Linked DNA regions of Homo sapiens. The protein of the gene in region 1 interacts with the protein of each later gene in a biochemical or structural test. Each region holds a gene or a part of one and is shown on either strand. Other genes may lie near its edges.

What was found.
Region 2: the proteins of HEY2 (region 1) and HAND1 form a complex in vitro, tested with the Homo sapiens proteins (one study listed by BioGRID).

Annotation. Positions count from the first base shown.
Region 1 is NC_000006.12:125,750,757-125,759,631, reverse strand, and holds part of HEY2 (hairy/enhancer-of-split related with YRPW motif protein 2), read right to left. Parts: exon of another isoform or gene 8,106-8,875; intron 7,832-8,105; coding exon 7,753-7,831; intron 7,626-7,752; coding exon 7,542-7,625; intron 5,168-7,541; coding exon 5,086-5,167; intron 516-5,085; coding exon 1-515. UniProt on the Homo sapiens protein: Downstream effector of Notch signaling which may be required for cardiovascular development. Transcriptional repressor which binds preferentially to the canonical E box sequence 5'-CACGTG-3'.
Region 2 is NC_000005.10:154,475,228-154,484,889, reverse strand, and holds the start of HAND1 (heart- and neural crest derivatives-expressed protein 1), read left to right. Parts: upstream 1-6,662; 5' UTR 6,663-6,881; coding exon 6,882-7,424; intron 7,425-8,979; coding exon 8,980-9,084; 3' UTR 9,085-9,662. UniProt on the Homo sapiens protein: Transcription factor that plays an essential role in both trophoblast giant cell differentiation and in cardiac morphogenesis. Binds the DNA sequence 5'-NRTCTG-3' (non-canonical E-box). Acts as a transcriptional repressor of SOX15.

The DNA.
Region 1 (8,875 bases):
GGACAGAGGGAAGCTGTGTGCAGCCGCGGTGGCTGCTGCGGCTGCGGCGTGGACGGTGGCAGAGAGGGACAAGAGAGAGGTGGAGAGAGGTGGCACGCAGGGGGCGACGCTGCCCGTGGATGGCATTCGGAGGGCTGAATCCGCATGGGCAAACGTGGCCGTGAGGAGAGCAGAGCCGTGGGCAGGAGGCACTTCTGAAGTTGTGGAGAGGCGACAAGGGGTTGACTCTGAGGCATGGAGGCCGTTGGGCTGGAGCAGGGCTGCGGGCAGGTGGTGGAAGGCGGCGGCCCAGTGATGCGGGTGGAGCGGATGATGGTGGTGGGCCATGGAGGATGTCATGGCCGCCGCCTCCCGCTGGGTGGCGCAAGTGCTGAGATGAGACACAAGCCGCACCCGCAGCGGATCCGAGGAGTCCAGGCCTTCCACGGAGCTCAGGTACCGCGCAACTTCTGTTAGGCACTCTCGGAATCCTATGCTCATGAAGTCCATGGCAAGAGCGTGTGCGTCAAAGTAGCCTAAAAGTGGGTTTGAGCAAAGTAGGGAACAGGAGAGAGATGGGCGGGAGGTAGGGGTGAGAAAATGGTATAGTCAACAATAACCACCCACTGATGTTCCACTCTGTCCTTCAGAAGACTGAAGTGGAACGATAATCCTTTCTGGAAATATTGCCAGCTATTTATGGTTTTAATTTTTTGCAGAAGTTAAGAAAGTATACTTTGCCACTCACATGTGTGACAACTCTGGCAATGCAATATGCTACAGTTGTTCTTGCAGCTAAATATCACAGTGGGGAAAAAAATTAAGAACATCCGCGTTTCAAACACTTCCAGAGAAAGAAATGGGGTCTCTCCCTTTGTATTGTGGGATAGTGAAATTCTCCAGGAAACTTTTTCATGGAAATACAGAGTTCCAGTCTCTCTGTCTCTGTCACATGAGTTGGAGATTAAAGGGCTTATCTGAAACATCTTTACTCTCTTGGCATTTTAACAGAGATGCCAAGTGCATCTTAGCAGCTTGAGGACTTTAGAAATGTGCTAGAATCGCAATAAATTCATAACTGCTTCTTGACTAACAATGTTTTTTATCAACAAAGTGAAACCATCTTGTCATAACTTTGTATAAAAAATTTAATGAAAACAAAATGAGTTTTTAAAAAAAATTTGGTTTCTTACTTGAAGATCTTATATTTCTGTCAGTAATATAAGGCTAAGTTCCTGATATGAAAATACTATATGTCAACGCCTAGTTTATCTGAAGTTCAAATATATGTCCTTACATTTTTCTAGCATACACCCAAGAAAAAAAATGTATATTAATTTTGTCAGTGTATATGCATGCACTCCTATACCTATGGTTACTACCATAAAAATGGCTAGAGCTTGGTCACATTTATCTGAGTCTCTGTCTGAAGATAATACATTAGAATAGAAAATAATAATGTCTAATTATTGGAGTGCCCATGTAGGGCATGTAGGGCACAATAATAATCAGACATATGGAGAAATGTTGCCCACTTTGAATGAGTGACGTCTGGTATATAAAAACAGATTATTTTTCATTTACAACTTTTTAAAAAGTAATTTCCAAATCAAAAGTTTGGTCTATTCATTTTGGGGATGTGTATATACATGAATAAGAAATATCACATTCAAATAAGGTTATTTATTAATTTATTTATCTTTGAGACAGGATTTCACTCTGTCACCCAGGCTGGAGTGCAGTGGCCCAATCACAGCTCACTGCAGGCTCCATCTCCTGGGGTTAAGTGATCTTCCTGCCTCAGCCTCCTGAGTAGCTGGGACTATAGGCATGTGCCACCACACTTGGCTAATCTGTGTGATTTTTAGTACAGACAAGATCTCGCTATGTTGCTCAGACTGGTCTAGACCTCCTGAACTCAAGCCATTCTCCTGCCTCGGCTTCCCAAAGTGCTGGGATTACAGGCGTGAGCCACCACACCCAGCAGTTATTTTTATCTAAAACATTTACATTATCTATGTTTTTGCTGATCAAAGCATTACCTGTTTATTCATCACCTATTAAAAATTTGGCTATCTTAATCTGTAATCAAAGAACTTTGGAGATAGTAGTCACATATATTAAGAGTCCTAAAGCTAAAATTCCAACGATTTGGAAGTTCCCAAAAGATATTTGTGGCAAATATATACACTACTAAAACAGAAACAACAGCAGTACAAAGCTGATACCAAGAGAATATCATGAAATACGGAAGATCAGCAGCAAAAACAGTTATCATCCCAGGACTCTGACATAGTTAACAAACAGAGCCTCTTGGATTAGGATGAAAAGCTATTCCTGAAGAAGAGGTATTCATGGAAAGATTTCACATTTTGGTCCTCAGGGTTCTGTAGGGCTTTGCAGACTTCTGACTCCCATGAGAGAAAGACGGGGGTAATGAATAGAATAGACAGAGTCCAGAAATCCAGAGGGATTTCGAAACTTAGGTTATTCTACTAAATCCTCTCTAGATACTATTGTCATACCAAGACAGACTATAAAGAATGAACTAACAGAATTGGAGCCCCAAGAGCTTCTAAGAATTTTCATTACTGGTCATGAAGTAATTGAAATTTGTGGTTTGCCTGCTATGTTGTCATATATGGCTGAGCTCTCTGTTATATCTTAAAGGAATATAAATTATGCAATTCCTATCCTATTGTGGACTTCAGAGGGAAATGATGATAAGTAGCTCCCTTTTGTGAATGGATCTTGGGCCAACAGTAACATACATGTCCATACCACTCCCTCTACACCAGCACTATTCTATCGGCCTTAAGTGAATTAACTTGTAACAGCCTTATGAGTTATATAGTATGGACACTACAACTGTCCTCTTTTTACAGATGATAAAACTGGACCAGCTCGCAGGGGGTAATTTGCCCAAAGTCACAGAGCTAATCAGTGGCAGAACCAGGATTTGAAATCAGGCAATCCAGCTACAGATACGATGCCCTTCACCACTGCACTATGAGGCAGTTGGTATTCTTTTACAATGTTAACCCAAACAGCCAGCTCCCTTCTTTTTATTTTTTCTATTTTTTTTGAGATGGAGTTTCACTCTTATTGCCCAGGCTGGAGTGCAATGGCGCGATCTCGGCTCACCACAACCTCTGCCTCCCGGGTTCAAGCAATTCTCCTGCCTCAGCCTCCTGAGTAGCTGGGATTACAGGCATGCACCACCATGCCCAGCTAATTTTGTATTTTTAGTAGAAACGGGATTTCTCCATGTTGGTCAGGCTGGTCTGAAACTCTGGACCTCAGGTGATCCGCCCACCTCGGCCTCCCAAAGTGCTGGGATTACAGGCATGAGCCACCACACCCAGCCGCCAGCTCCCTTCTTGAAGGCCATTCTCCAGTGCAATGACCTCTTCAATGGCCTGACAGTCAGGTGACGTGTATGGAGCCTACTTGGAAATATCTGTTCACAAACTATTCTGGGACAAATTTTAGGACTGTCTAGGTGGCCAAGAATAGCAACCAAGATGGAACTTAGTTTTTATAATAAAGCCTAAGAACAATATTACTCTTTAGAAGTACAGCTCATGCCAAATATTTGAAACCCTAATGAGAAAACTTAGCCTTGTGGCTAACAATGCTAAGGGAAGTAAAGCAATCAAACAAATTTTCTTGTAGCATGACTAATTCAATCAGTATCCTAACATCCTGAGGTAGCAGTTGTAGAGACAGAATCATGGAGCTGCAGGGGCCCTTGGCGCTCATGCTGCTAGTGTAGCCCTCAAAGTGCAGCCCAGACTTTTTTCTTAGGTCAGAGGCACAGCAGTGGTCAAGCTAGGCTGGATCATTGGCTTCTGTGATTTAATCCAGTTATCTTTTCTATTATGTAAGAATGTTTGCATTTCATGCCATCATTCAGGATGGTTCCTTGAGAAGGTACAATCTGGGAAAAGTCAACCCATTGGGGCTTCTCTGTACAATGGTTACCCTCCCTCCCTACTAGACGCAGGAAAAAGATGGTTAAGATCAGGGCTGATGTTCTAGAGATCCTCAATGGTATGGCCATACAGGAGTTAAATATTGGTAACAGTTGCTTCCCTCCAATGTCCTGCCTCTGCCCTGATCTAGGACCCGTATACAGTGTAGTAAAAGGTTAATGCTGAGCACCGGGAGGCCTTCAGGATTTAGTTGGAGCCCTTAAATCCTTCTGATACCTTCTCCTTATTCAGTTGTTAAATATACTGAATAACACCCTTGGCTAAGGTGAATATCAAAGGATTCTTTGAAGGATGAAAAAGATTCAGAGGAACAAAATCAAGTCTGAGTTGTGATGTGTAAGTGGGATAATGAAATCTGAGTGAACTAGGATCTCAAGGCTGTTTTTAGCATGAGATGAGATCCTCTCTCACCACCTCGACAATTACTCCCTAAGTCACTATCCAGTACAGAGGACACCTCTCTAGGGCCCTGGACCTGGAGTGCCTGCTCCTGTTTGCTTTCCCCAAGAATGACTCTGCTCCATTAATGGCTTCTGGTGTAGAGACTTCCTACCTGCACTTCAACTGTTCTGTTTGGTCTAAATTCAAGACCAAGCAAAAATCTGAAAACAATAATGAAAATAACTCTAGAGTCAATTCCTTTGGAATAGCTGAATTATTTTCAGTCTTAGCCTTCATTTAATGAAGACAGAGGAGGAGAAGGAGTAGGAAGAAAGAAGCAGAAGGAGGAGAAAAGGATTACCTCTAACCTCCTGTTTATGTTTGGATGTTTGTGTGTTTGTTTTTTGTTCTTTCTGTACAGATTCCAGCATGCGCTTCTTAAGTCCTAAACAAATCTCTGACCAGGCTGCTGTGAATGAAGCTTTACTCCCACAGTATTATGAAAGCAAACACAAGCCCAGGGTCAAGTGCTTCTTTTGTTCCAAAAGTTCTTTCCCACGAGTTCAATCCTGCCATTAGCATTGATTTCCATGGCTTTAATCTGGGGCCTCCTATCTCAGCTTGTTAAAGAACTGTTCAGCTATGACTTCCTTACAATATTAGGGGGAATAACATGAAAAGAGAAAGGTAAAAAAGGCAAAAAAAAAAAAAAATGAAGTCATCTACTTACCTTTACCCCCTGTTGCCTGAAGCATCTTCAAATGATCCACTGTCATTTGCAATATTTCAGCTTTTTCTAACTTTGCAGATCCCTTCATAAATAAATAAATAAATAAATAATCCTATGTCCTACAGAAACTAATCTGAAACATTATACACTGAATTTAGCATTATGGCTTCAATTTCCCTCTCACTAGACAATCCCAACTTTTATTTTTTCACAGAAAACTTCGAATTCTTTCCAAACTTTACATGAAAGCACTAATTAATGTCATACCTAATGACAAGTATTTGCCATTTTAACTTTTAAAGACTAAAAGAAACTAGAATGACTTTTTTAAATCATAAGAATAATTATTCTCCTAAGATCACCACAGCAAAATGATTTCAGTTGTAAAAATCTCAAACTTTGCATTCAATCTGTGTCTTGGTTAATAATATGTTTTACTATGGGGCATCAATAGTCTTCTATAAAGCCAAAGTCTAGAGGAGTTGCATAACAACTCCAGAAGATAAGGAGATAGGATTTTAGCAATTGATTGTTAAATATTTTTAAAATAGAAAACTCCAATAAGTCCTTTCACAGGCCTACTAAGTCCTGAAATAAGGTATTCACACTAGAACCATATAATTGGATCTGCATTTCAAGCAGATCCAAAAATTTTAAAAAGGACGACTTTTAAGGTTTTTTTCCCCAATAATTACCAGCAGGTGTCACTGTGAATTTCTAAGCTCACAAACAAGAAGCAATAATTTACTGCTTACCTAGGAAGCATCATAAATGCTTAAGGATTTTTGAACCTTTTAAAATAGTTCTTAATAAAATTGTCTTGCAAATATATTTTTATGTCCCTGCTTTCAGAATAAGGAAACCTCTGGTAACCAATTGAAATACAAATGTGCCATTTCAAGCTGTCTCGGGGACTGTGGGTGGCTTCTCATTTCCTGGAAGAGCTAAATAATTACCAATATGTTCTCTTTTTTTTTCTTTTTTAAGGACACTAAGGTTTATTTCAGGTCCCTATGCTTTACTTGTTTTGTAAAAATTATCAGCACCACGTACGGTGAGAGTGCCAGAGTTACTTAACTGCTCTAAAGAACACTTTTCTAATCATATTGTGACAGGGCCAACTCACTTGGGTTGGTAGCCAAGCTCTGCAAATGGGAAAGCTTGTGTTTATGGTAACTAACTGCCAAACAACTGATGTTTGCTTTTAAGGTTTAAGTCAACATTTAAGAAAAAAAAAATCTAACAAACCAAGAAAAAAAATCAAACAGACTTCGCCTCATAACTGCAGACATTTCAGTACTTCCAAATTTTAAAAACATCATTGATTACTGACATTTTCACTTGAAGCCTATTTGGCACTGAAAATGCTACTAATCAAAACTACAATTTCCACATTATTTTTAGTTTATCAAACACAGTCTCTGCATATAGATTGGGTGTGCTTTTTGTCTTAAAAATGTATAATCAGTAGCATATTATGTTTTGTATTTGGTCAGCGTTTAATTTTTCCATGAAAATGGTACAAGCAGATTCAGTAAAGTCACTAATAATTGAAACTGCACTTTCTGGATAATTTCCAAGGACTTTGTAGGGCTTGTTTTATAATGTTTGCAGATTCATGAAGTAAACAAACAAAATGGAATAAACAAACAACTGTTGTCTTATTGGAATTAAACTGAAAGTATTTTCAACAAGGACATGCTGCCATATCCTTTGAAAGATACTCTTAGAAATCTGTGTCATTAACCACTGCGGCAGGGGGAGAGCCATGACTTCTAAAACCACAAAAGATTTAAACATTTGGCTTTCTACTTTTCTAAGTGTGCAAAATCTTTTTCTTTCTTTCTTTTTTTGTAAAGGAATAGGTAACTATGAAAAGGGGCATTTATGATTAACTTCATTTTTACCAAACTTCTAAAAAGATGACCCAAATCAAATGGCATTCTACCAACCCAGGGATTAAAAATGAAAGCAAATGGCTTGGTAAATAAATTTTAGTGGTATTATCATTTAGGAAATAGAGCTAGAGATGTTACTTCTTGGGCTCTGATTGTTTTTTAATTAAAAATATTACATTTTAAAAAAATTTTGAGAAAAAAATGGTTTTTTTTTTTTTTTTGAAGGATACGGTATACAGCACAGTTTTAAATAAAACCACTACTGGTATTCATAGAAAGAACAGAGAAAGCATGAACACTGTTACCCTTAAGGGGAAAATAAGCTAAAGAATGGAAATGTTTTTCAACTTCATGATGGATTATGTTTTTAATAGTTTTGCCACAACAAAGCATTTTATTGAAATAGCTGCTCTGTGCCAGATCAGGGCACATACACTATTATTTTAATGAGCTTTAACAAGAACCCACATTCCCAGATGAGCGAATCAGATTGTGTTTGAGCTTTTTTTTGGGGGGTGGCGGGGTGGGTGGGGGGATTCTGGGGAGGGGATAGCTTACTTGTTTTTCAAAAGCAGTTGGCACAAGTCTTCTCAACTCAGATAAACTGTTATTTATCCGATCCCGACGCCTTTTCTCTATAATCTATCCAAAAGAAGCAAACAACAAAAGTTTATGAATTCACAAATGATAAAATTACTCAAATGAAAAAATGTAACTGTTACACAATAGTATAAGTTACATGAAATAAAAAGGGGGAAAAATCACATACCCCTCTCCTTTTCTTTCTTGCCATAATCTGAGATGTTGTTGTTGGAGAATTCAATCTAATCACAGAGCTAGTACTTTGCCTATGAAATAAGAAGAGTATGTCAGGTGCTGCATTAACATAACAATAGTTTCTTCTGGGTACTTGTGGCACCCATTAAATATTCAGAGTGATTGCACAGTTCAAGTCTGTGTTATTTTATTCTTAGTTCTTGTTTCACTCTTAACGGACTTTGCTTTCAGCCCGGCTGTCTCTTTTCAGGTAAAAATTACGCCTTAATTTGTAATCCAGATGCTAACCCATTGGCCAAAATGTCCCACAATTTTTACTTGAAAGTCTCCCAGTGAAATAATTACCGGCAGTTGGGCTGAGAAGTTAGATATTAGCATTTCCTAGTTCCACTCATATATTTTAAAGTCAACTAATCTCAAATAGCTTTCCTTCTCCCTCCTGTCAGGCACACTGAACAAAATAATGCCACTTTTTCAAATCAGGGTTATGTTAAGCACCACTATCAAACAGATGTGCAGTCGTCATACGTCAAACTCTTGTCTCTAGGTGCAAACTTTAAAATAAATAGAAGTTATCTTACTGTTTCAAAACTTCAGTTAGTCATATATTGCAACAGGAAAAAATTGACAAACTTGATGTTTTGCATACTAATCTTCCAAAAATATGCCCTAAATATGCCACTGATAGGAAAATTAAAACTCATTTTATTACTAGGTGAATGTTTTACTTTGAAAATGAAACTGTAGGTGTGTCTCAGACTTTAGGCTAAGCTTAAATCTCCAGAAGCTGCAATGCACCTTGGATTTACTAATGAAAATATATTTTTATATTGAAGGTTCAATCAAAGTATTATTTGGTCACATAATTTTTACAATCCTTTCTAGTTTGTATCTGTTTCTCTTCATAATTCATGGATACTATGCTTCTTTGTGTTCTCAAATTCCCCAGGTTCCTGTTATTTGTTCTCTTTCATTTTAGAAATGCTGCACACACCAGGTTGCTATTACCTCACCTTCTCACTTCTGGATCTTATTTCTGAATTACCTGTCCCCCTCATTTTCACCCCTTCTTTACGGGTTTCACCTTTCACGTGATAGCTTCTGTTTTTCAGACC
Region 2 (9,662 bases), on another chromosome or scaffold:
CTTTTGGAGAAAAGAGCACAGAAGTTTTGAATGAATCTCCAGACCCTGTCCCTGAGATAGCAAGGCTTAGATGGACAAGCCTGGAGTGGACAGCTTGCATTGTGCCCCATGGGGACTCTGCCAGAGAAGCGCATGATCCTTAAGACAGAGATATGGCTCAGTCCTGTATTCCAGGAGAAAGTAGACTCAATGTTTGCTCATGAAATGTCCCTGCGTCCAGCTCTGCTGGTCGTGTCCCTGGCGAAGACTCCCCACCTATGTAGCCAGCAGCATCTGTCCTTGGATACACCATCCCGGCTCTAGCTTTTCCCCAGTAATCAGCTGGCTTTCGCTGGCAGGAGGACCCAGGAGATAGGTAAAGTGGGTTGATTCAGTCCTTGCTGTGGAATTCAGATTAGACTGGGAAAGGAAAAAATTCTCCTGACCAGGGATGCAACAGTCAGGCAGTGAGAATGACCTTCGTGACAATGAGCCGAGATAAGCCTCTTGGCATGAAACAGCTCGGCAGGCAATGATCAGTGGTCTAGGGATTGGCTACAAGTGGCCCGACCCGACCCGGGGAGCAACCGAGCACCAGGAAACTAACCAGCATGTGAGGAACAAAAAAAATCTCCCAATATGCCGAAAACAGCCTGGTGCACAGCAAAACTTCGTTAACAGGCGGCCTGGAGCTGAGTGCTGTGAAGCTGACCAGAATGAAATTGCCCTGAAAGCAACGGGACTGGGTAAAAGAAACCGGAGTAAAATCCACCTGCCTGCTAGTGTGCAACTAACCACTGCGAGGGATGGGAGAAGGGAGGGTCTCGGAGGGCCGCAGGGTGGACCGGGAGGAGACAGGACTCCTGGTGTTCTGGAGAACCTGACCGAGCTGCTTCGGGGATGGGGGAGGGAGGTGTCCAGTGCCTTTTGATTTACAATCGCTGCGCCCCAAGCGATCCCATAAATTTGGGGGCCGTTTTCACCAAAACCGTGAGTTACGATTTTTCAAATAAATACATTTTCCAATCAGACCGGGTTCTGTTTAGGTTGAACGCGTCCCGAAGCAGACATCTCTCTGTGCGGAAAATACACAGAGGAGGAAACGGAGCCGGGACGAAGCTCAGACGACATAAAAACTTATGTAAACACATTGTCATTTACGGGCTTCGGAAGAGAAAGAGAATGAGGGGAGGAAGACAGAAAAAGTTGGGGGAAACACATACATGTTTAATTCTCCCTCGAATCCTCAGGTCCTAGCCCAGAGGGAGGTTAGAAAATGTAATATTCTTTTTCCATAAGCTTGATTTATGTTACTCATTGGACAATAGGCAGCAGCAGGTTTACCTTAAATAGATTTTGTATTTTTGAGGCCTGTTACAGGCCTGAGAATGAGCACAAATGACCCCCCCCCCTCGTACACACACACAGCCACACACATATATGCATAGGCACTCTCTCCTAGTTTTTCTTTAAGAAAGAGCGTGGAGGAGATAAACCAAAATGAATTATTTTAGCAGGGGAGGGTCGTCGATTTCTATCTGTGTGCCCTTGGGCAAGTCTCTCCCCATCCTCTGGGCCTGTGTTTTGCCCGTAATCAGGGGCTACCGTTGCGCAGAAAAGCATTGACACATAATTCTGTGCACAATGGCAAGAACCTCCTGGCCAAAATGTAAAGAACGTCACTTCCTGCTTGGACCCTTTCTGGCCTGACCACCCTCGTCTCAGGAAAGAAGGTAATAAGGGGAGACAGAGGCTGCTGTTCACCCCAGGTCCCCTCTGGAGATCTGGGCTTTAGCCGCGCGTCTGCCACTCATCGGCCGTGTGCCCTTAGGAAAGTTCCTTCCCCTCTCTGGGCTAGTTTCCCGTCTGCAAACAGAACCTTGGAGCTCCCAGGAGCAATCTACTCCGTGCCTATCTCTTCCCTGCCCCGACTGTCCCCCATCCCTGGGAGCAGGCTGGGCCAGATTGGAAAGTCCTAGGTCCTCTTCAGACATGGCAGAGAAATGTTTAAGGGATTTGCGCGCTCAAGCTGCGGGGTAAATGGTCCGCGGGCTGATTTATGGCGCGTTACTGCGCGACGCGATTCCCCAAGACAGCGAGAATATTTTACACCGCGCTAATATAAACAGGCGGCCGGCCGGGTCCTTTTTATGGAGTTCCTGTAATTACCCGGGCCCTGACAGGTCCTTGATTTACTGCCCTATTTAGATAAGGGGTCCGGTGCGGGGATTGCCCGTGGCGTCAAGGTCACGGGACTGCGGCGGGAGAAGGTTTTGCGGTAGGCGCCGCGGCCTGGGCTTCCAGAGGCCTGCCAGTCCGGGGGGCGCGGATAGGGGTGAGGGTAGGAGAGGGGCTAGGGCAAGAGCGAGACCCCACCACTGCAGAACGTCCAGGCTTGAGGGACCTTCGCATTGCCCGGGTACAGCTGTCCTACTGTTATGGTTGGGGGAACTGAGTCCCGTAGGTGACAAGACTGCACCCCCCACCAAGTCATTTAGGGAGGGACATGGGGGTGGAGGGTGGAATCTGGAACTGGAATTCGGGTCTCTGGCAACATAATTCCTACACCTGGCGATGTCTCTGTATCTCCAGTCTTATGATGGCTGGGTTGTGTAGGGTCAGTAGGGAATGGGAAGGAACCTAAGGCAGTCAGAAGCAGCTAGGTCAGGTCAGAACAGAGCCCTGCAAGGAGGATTCAGTGTCCTGGTCCTTCTCCCCATCCAGAGCTTTGTAGTCATGTGGCGGCATGTAATTCCATTTCCGCCCCTATGAAATTAATATTCCTAAAAACAGAGCCACCATTTATCCAGGTTTACTGTCACTGTGCTAAGAGCCTCGCCTTGTGCTTACTCTTACGCCAGCCCTCCACAGAGGTTATTATTGTCCTCCAATTTACAGAAGAGAAAACTGAGGTGTAGAAGCTTCACACAGGGAGGAATGATGTGCACAGTTTTAACTCAGATGGGCCCGATTCCATAGCAAGGTGGAATGTGTTTTATGTGCATAAGCCCTCTACTTTGTAAAACAGGGTAAAGAAGAGTTCCTGCCGGGTCTCACCACTACAACTGGGGGAAGAAACGAGAAGCCTGCATTTGAAAATACTAAGAAGGCCAACCCCCCTGAAGGCACTCTTTAGGTGAGCAAGGTTCGTTAAGAGGAGGCTGCAGGGGCAGTGTGGGCTAGGACCCTGGGAGTTCTAGTCCTTGGTCTGTTGAGGTAGGCAAGAGGAAAGCGGAGTCCTTCTGTAGGGATCCCTGAGCTGAGCACTAAGTCCCAGGAGGAACCAGGGCAGGGTCCCTGCAATAGTGAGGAGCTGGGAATTCCAGAATTCCAGACTATCAATCCTATTCCCTTCTTCTGCAACTGGGGAAACTGAGGCTCGGACTGGAAAGGAACAAAGAGGTGCTAGATAGGGAAAGCCAGGACTCTTGCCTGTCACATCTCTTGCCTGCCAGCCTAAAGCAATTTTAGCCAAAATCCTAGGTCTCAGACCTCCTCCTACAATATAGCTTGGGCAGAGATAGAGAACAACCTTACAAGGTCCCCACCATCCCGGGAGTTCTGCTGCTCTCCACGGACTACAGTAAAGCATTTTGGGGTCTCTGAGAAGGCAGTCTAGAGCCTAGTTGTACTGCAGTCTCCCCCGACGTCATCCTGCTGGGGGTTGCCCCAGCCCCAAGCCTCAGGAGATCCCTTAGGGCTGAGTTTCTGGTGGGGGCACCGCTTGAAAAATGACACTGAATACCTTCTCTAGGTTGGGGAACAGTGCTTTCCACATCACTGGCAGCTGGAGACACCCTGCTCTTTAAGACCCATGGGGGGCTGCCAGGTAGTCTCAGGGGCCCTCAAGGGGTGTCATAGGACTGGGACTCCTCACCCAGTACTGATAATGCATTCCCCACCACACTAACCAGGCCAGATATATGGGGGATGTATACAACCTTGAGTGATCTGTGTAACATCATAAAAGCAACTAGGACTCATATGGGCAGGCGCGTGGGCCACACATTTGTATGTGTGTTATGTGTGAGCATGTGAGAACCTCTATTTGTGAGCACCTGTGCATATGTAGTAGATATTGTGACTGTGTACTTGTGCACTGAAGGCTTAGCGGTGACACTGAGAATATACAAAATGTATGATGGGATTTTGGAAGTTTGTGTTGCGAATACAATTGTGGAGAATCTTAGGAAGATACAAGCTGGTTTAAATTGTGGCAATGAGATTATGTGTGAAACCCTGCATTTGTGTAGTATTCAGAATTTATGTGTTTCTACCATATGACTTTGGTCTCTGTGCATGCCTGAATGGAGGATTGGGAGCGGCTCCCAGGTGTAACACATCTGAAGCGTGATGAGTATGTACCCTGTGGGTGACAGAGAGACAATGTGTAAAATCCTAGGAATGCATGAATGCTGTGTGTACCGTGGCTGTGCGTATTACTGTGAGAATACACATACTTTTGGGCGTCTTATGAAGATACGGGCTTTTGTGTACGGCGGCAAGGTTTTGTGAGCCCTTGTGCATGTACCTGTGAATGTATAATCTGAGGGCCTAGTGTGCCGCTCTGAGAGGCACTGTTGCAGATTGTACTTGGATTAGGACAAAGACTGGGCGTGTGTTGAGGATTGTGTGTTGAGGTCCTTCTCTCCACAGCGTAATTACTCTCTACCTGCGCTCTTTCTAGAATGCCTCCAGGCCAGGGAGGCTTGGGACCCCGCAGAGCCGCCGCAGCAGCGGGCCCCCAGCGCTCCCTCCCCGCGTGCCTCCGGCTCCGCGCTCTGCCCTACCCCAGCGCTGCTGGCGCCAGGCGCCGGGGAGAGCGGGGGGTTTCCAGCCCGCCTCGGGCAGGAAACCAGGACCTCCCTGCACCACCCCCCCATGCACCTCCAGGGCCCACAGCCCTGCTGAGCTCCCACAGGTGGAACCAGCAGGCCCAGGCTTTTGTCTCCGTCACTCCTGTATGTAACCCCCCACCCTTCATTCACTCTCTTGTCCAGGAGTGGAATTCCACTCATCCACTCCCTACCGGACCTCGAGAAAATCGCTCTTCTTCTCTGGGCTTCACGTTCCATATCTGTTCAAGGAGAGAATGGGCCTTTCTCCCTCTGTCTTTGGACTAGTAACTATGATAGGCACATAGTAGGCATCAATAAATAATTGTTGAATGAATGGGTGAATGATTTGCCTTCTAAAAAGAGCACTCACATTAACTTCTCCTTTCCCCCTCCCCTCGACTTTGCTTTGAAGAGAGGCACACTCCCTCTACCACACCGAGGGAGGGGGCGTTGAGCTGAGAAAGGTTGAGAGAATGAGGGACCCAGGTAGGTGGACATCGGCCAAGAAAGGAACCACAGCGGGAGGTAAGACCGAGAGTCCCCAGCTTGAAGCGTCACCACTCCGGGATTCCCAGATTCCAACGCGAGCCTGGGGAAAGCCCACAGTGGAGAGAGTCCGGCTGGCAGGGAATGGCCCTACCCCCGGGGTGAAATCTCGGAGGGTCGTGCAGCCGAGTCGCGCCTCTGCGCTGATGCGTGAGAGATGCCGGACGTCGCGTTTGCCTGTGCGAGCCTCGCGGATGCTGTGCAGTCTTGGTCCCCTCTGCGTGTGTCTAACGCCGAATGCTGGTGTCTCGAGGTGTGAGCTTCGGGGCCGGTGTCTTTAAAGAACCAAAGATTCTTAAGGAGTGATGATCTGGGTAGAGCGGCCCGACGTAGCCGCGCTCCCAGGTCTCGGTGCGAGTCCTGCGGACAGACCAGAGGAGACCTGCTGGCCAGATGCCCCGGGCCCAAGGCGGACGCCAGACTGTCTCTGCGCCAGCCGGGCTGGCCTTCGGAATGGATCAGGCACCCGGGAGGCCGGAGTGGATCTCAGACCCTCAAGCCGGGAACAAACCCGTCGATGCCCGTGGGCCTGGAGTCCGCCTCCTCCTTCCCGCCCCACCCCTACCCCTGCCTCCGAAAGGCTTCTTCGCTGGTCAGTAGCTGCGTGCCCGTCTGCCTGAGGCTGGGTCAGAATTGGCGGGCTGGTAACGACCCCGTGCACAAGCGGCTCCCAGTCTCTCCAGAAAGGGCCGATGACTAAGGGGTGGGGGTGGGGGCGGAGGGCTGGAAGGTGTTAGGGAAGAACGTTAGCGGCCTATCCTGTCTTCAGCAGCGCCCTCTCATCTTCTAGCTCTGACGCCGAGCAGAGCAGTTGGAGCTCGGGACTGGGAACTGCTGGAATTCCTATTTAGACTTCTAGACAGTCTAGAAACAAGAACCTTTCTTTCCCTGGGCCTCAGTTTCCTTGTCTGTAAAATCAAAAGGCGGGCTCTAGGTGTAGGCCTTCTTTTCGCTTGGTGATTCTGGATTCCTTTCCTTGGATCCGTGGGGAGGGGGTGGCAGCAACAGTCCAGGGCGTTGGCCGTCCTGTGCCTCAAGTACGTAGTCCCCGTGCCCGCCCCCTCAACACCCCCAGCAGCCCGCCCCCCTAAGCCCGCAGAGCAGGGAGCTGAGTGGGAGGGGCAGAGGCGGGGCCGGTTCCCAGTCCCTGCTGGCGGACTAGAGTGGCGCGGGCTGAGCGTAAAACCTGGGATAGCCACTCCCCCTTTTCCTTATCCCCGCCCCCCTGCCATTGGCTCCCGGGAGAGGTTGACATCAAAGCCGCGGTCTTATATAAGCCAGATCCGCAGGGGAGTCCGCAGAAGGGTTAAACAGGTCTTTGGGCTTCGGCGACCTCGCCCGCGGCAGAAACCGGTAAGAAGACAGTGGGCTGCGCGTCTCATTTTCAGCCTTGCCCGGACTCTCCCAAAGCCGGCGCCCAGTAGTGGCTCCAGAGCCCACAGGTGGCCCCCGGCAGTCTCTGGGGCGCATGGAGCGGCGTTAATAGGGCTGGCGGCGCAGGCCAGTAGCCGCTCCAACATGAACCTCGTGGGCAGCTACGCACACCATCACCACCATCACCACCCGCACCCTGCGCACCCCATGCTCCACGAACCCTTCCTCTTCGGTCCGGCCTCGCGCTGTCATCAGGAAAGGCCCTACTTCCAGAGCTGGCTGCTGAGCCCGGCTGACGCTGCCCCGGACTTCCCTGCGGGCGGGCCGCCGCCCGCGGCCGCTGCAGCCGCCACCGCCTATGGTCCTGACGCCAGGCCTGGGCAGAGCCCCGGGCGGCTGGAGGCGCTTGGCGGCCGTCTTGGCCGGCGGAAAGGCTCAGGACCCAAGAAGGAGCGGAGACGCACTGAGAGCATTAACAGCGCATTCGCGGAGTTGCGCGAGTGCATCCCCAACGTGCCGGCCGACACCAAGCTCTCCAAGATCAAGACTCTGCGCCTAGCCACCAGCTACATCGCCTACCTGATGGACGTGCTGGCCAAGGATGCACAGTCTGGCGATCCCGAGGCCTTCAAGGCTGAACTCAAGAAGGCGGATGGCGGCCGTGAGAGCAAGCGGAAAAGGGAGCTGGTGAGTCCTGGGGCTTGCATGCTCCAGCCAAGGGTGCAGGAGCGGTGAGCAGCCTCAGGCCATGCAGGTAGTCGAAGGAGGCTGTGTTGTCCTGTGTCCGATTTGGAAAGGTTGGGAAGAGTTCTGAGATGGTTGGTCACAGCGTGCGATCCTGTGCATGGAGGGAGGCAGATTCGTCATAGAATTCATTTGTAATACGGGAGAGTGTTTGTAATACTGAGTGAATAATCTGTTTGGAGCCTCGGACCCTCCAAAAATGCACACACCACAGGTTTTGCTTCCAATTTGGAGAAGTCCTGATTCATTCCTGGGCTCTCCTGGAAGCCAGGTTAAGAATATGTGTTAAAGTTCTTTACTTTGAGTTTGAATTTATGTGCCCGGGCTCGGTTCCTGTTTTCAAAGGGCCTTTGCTGGACCGGCTAGTCTACTTCCATCATTGTATAAATAGGGAAACTGAGGGCCCAGAGTGGGTCGGGGCAGGAAAAGCACCTATCTGAGGAGTCCAGGGTGGAGGTGAGGTAAAACAGATCGGGTCTTCTACTCAGTCCAGGGCCAGTTCTGGTTCTCCCCATGGACTGGTTCTGAGGACGACTTCAGTGGCTTTGCATGTAAATAAGAGCCACTTCTTTTAGCTTTGGAGAGCGCAGTCTCGTCTTGGCCTTCTTGATCCTCTCCGGTTAGGGTGACACTTCCTGGCACTCGGTCTGGCTGTCCGGGGCTGGGGGCTTCTGAGCGCTGGGTTTTCAGGCTGGCCAATCAGTTTCTCTAGGTTGGGGGGCTTAAGGCCGTAGCGGAGTGGAGCCAGCTGAAGCGCCCCACCTGGTTTATCCAACCTGCGGGGGCCTGTGGTAAACTGACGAAAGCTCATCCAGGGACGAGGGAAAGATAAATAGGCATCGAGTCTCTAAACGGCTGCCCCGGACTGGGGATGGTGCAGGCCGGCTTCTTTCGAGGTGCGGCGCCTCGAAAGAAGTTGTTATTGGGCGGATCCCGGCCCCCACGCGTCGCCGCCTCCTTCAAGTAGCACCGCTTGGTTCCTGCTGAAAGAGCGGGAAGGAGGACGCTAGGCCAGCTCGACTCCCCGCTCTTTTACCTCCGTATCTGAGGCTCCCAGCTCCGGCTTAGGGGGCCCCAAGCCTGCATCCAAGCCCTGATGTTTAAACCAGGTTGGGAGGCTGGCGGAAGTGTGTGGGGTGCAGCGAGAGCGGGAGAACCGTGGATTTCCACCCCTCCCTTCCAATATCCTGGGATCTCCCTTAGGTGTCCTAAAGCCAAATCAACGCGCGTCAGTTTCACCAGACGCAGAACATTTTCCTTACCAAACCTCCCGAAGCTGCCCAGCCCATCCCGGGTCCCAGGAACTCCGCGCATAAAGGCAAATTTACGAGCCTGTTTGCCTATTTCGCAAACAGAAATCCGTCACTTATTTAAAGACTCCCAGTTACTGCTCCCGACACCTTCCCCTCCTCCTCATCTTACCCCATGCCGGGCGATCGGAGCAGAAAAATTAAAACCTGTCTCTCCCGCCTCTTTTCTTCTGTGTGTCCTTTGGCAGCAGCAGCACGAAGGTTTTCCTCCTGCCCTGGGCCCAGTCGAGAAGAGGATTAAAGGACGCACCGGCTGGCCGCAGCAAGTCTGGGCGCTGGAGTTAAACCAGTGAGCCGAGGCCCGCGCCGAGGACCTGGCCAGGCCAGCCACTCCTGAAGCCCCGGGAGGAGAGGAAGGCAGCGGCGAACGCCAGGCTCTGGGCTCCGGCGACTGGTGCTACGCATCCCGCGGAGCTTCTGCTGAGCGCCGGCAGGTCGTCGGCTGCAACCACACACTTGGATCGCACGTGCAATGTCCTTTGATTTTTTTTAATACATTAAGAGAAAGAGAAATATATATATATCCACCCCCAGCCCAACCGAGGGCGGCCCTTGGCGGCAACATGCAAGAAGGAGGGACTGTCGAACCCAAGGGCTCAAAGACGCACTCTTCCACCCTTTTGGAGCGAATTTAGAACCTCAGCCCTATCTCCATTTCCCTATCTGGCTCTTTCTCTCTTGTCCCTCCATATGATCCGCCCCGACGCCGTCTTCTCTAATTAAAATGCAATAAGGAATCAATTCTTTTCTGCCTGAGAAAGAGAACCAGACGCAGGAAGATGAAAGGCTGCCCTTTGTTCTTCGAATCGTGGTGGTTTTATTTTATTTTTCTTTTTGTCGCTGCACTTCCTGTTTAGTTCCAAGGGAAACA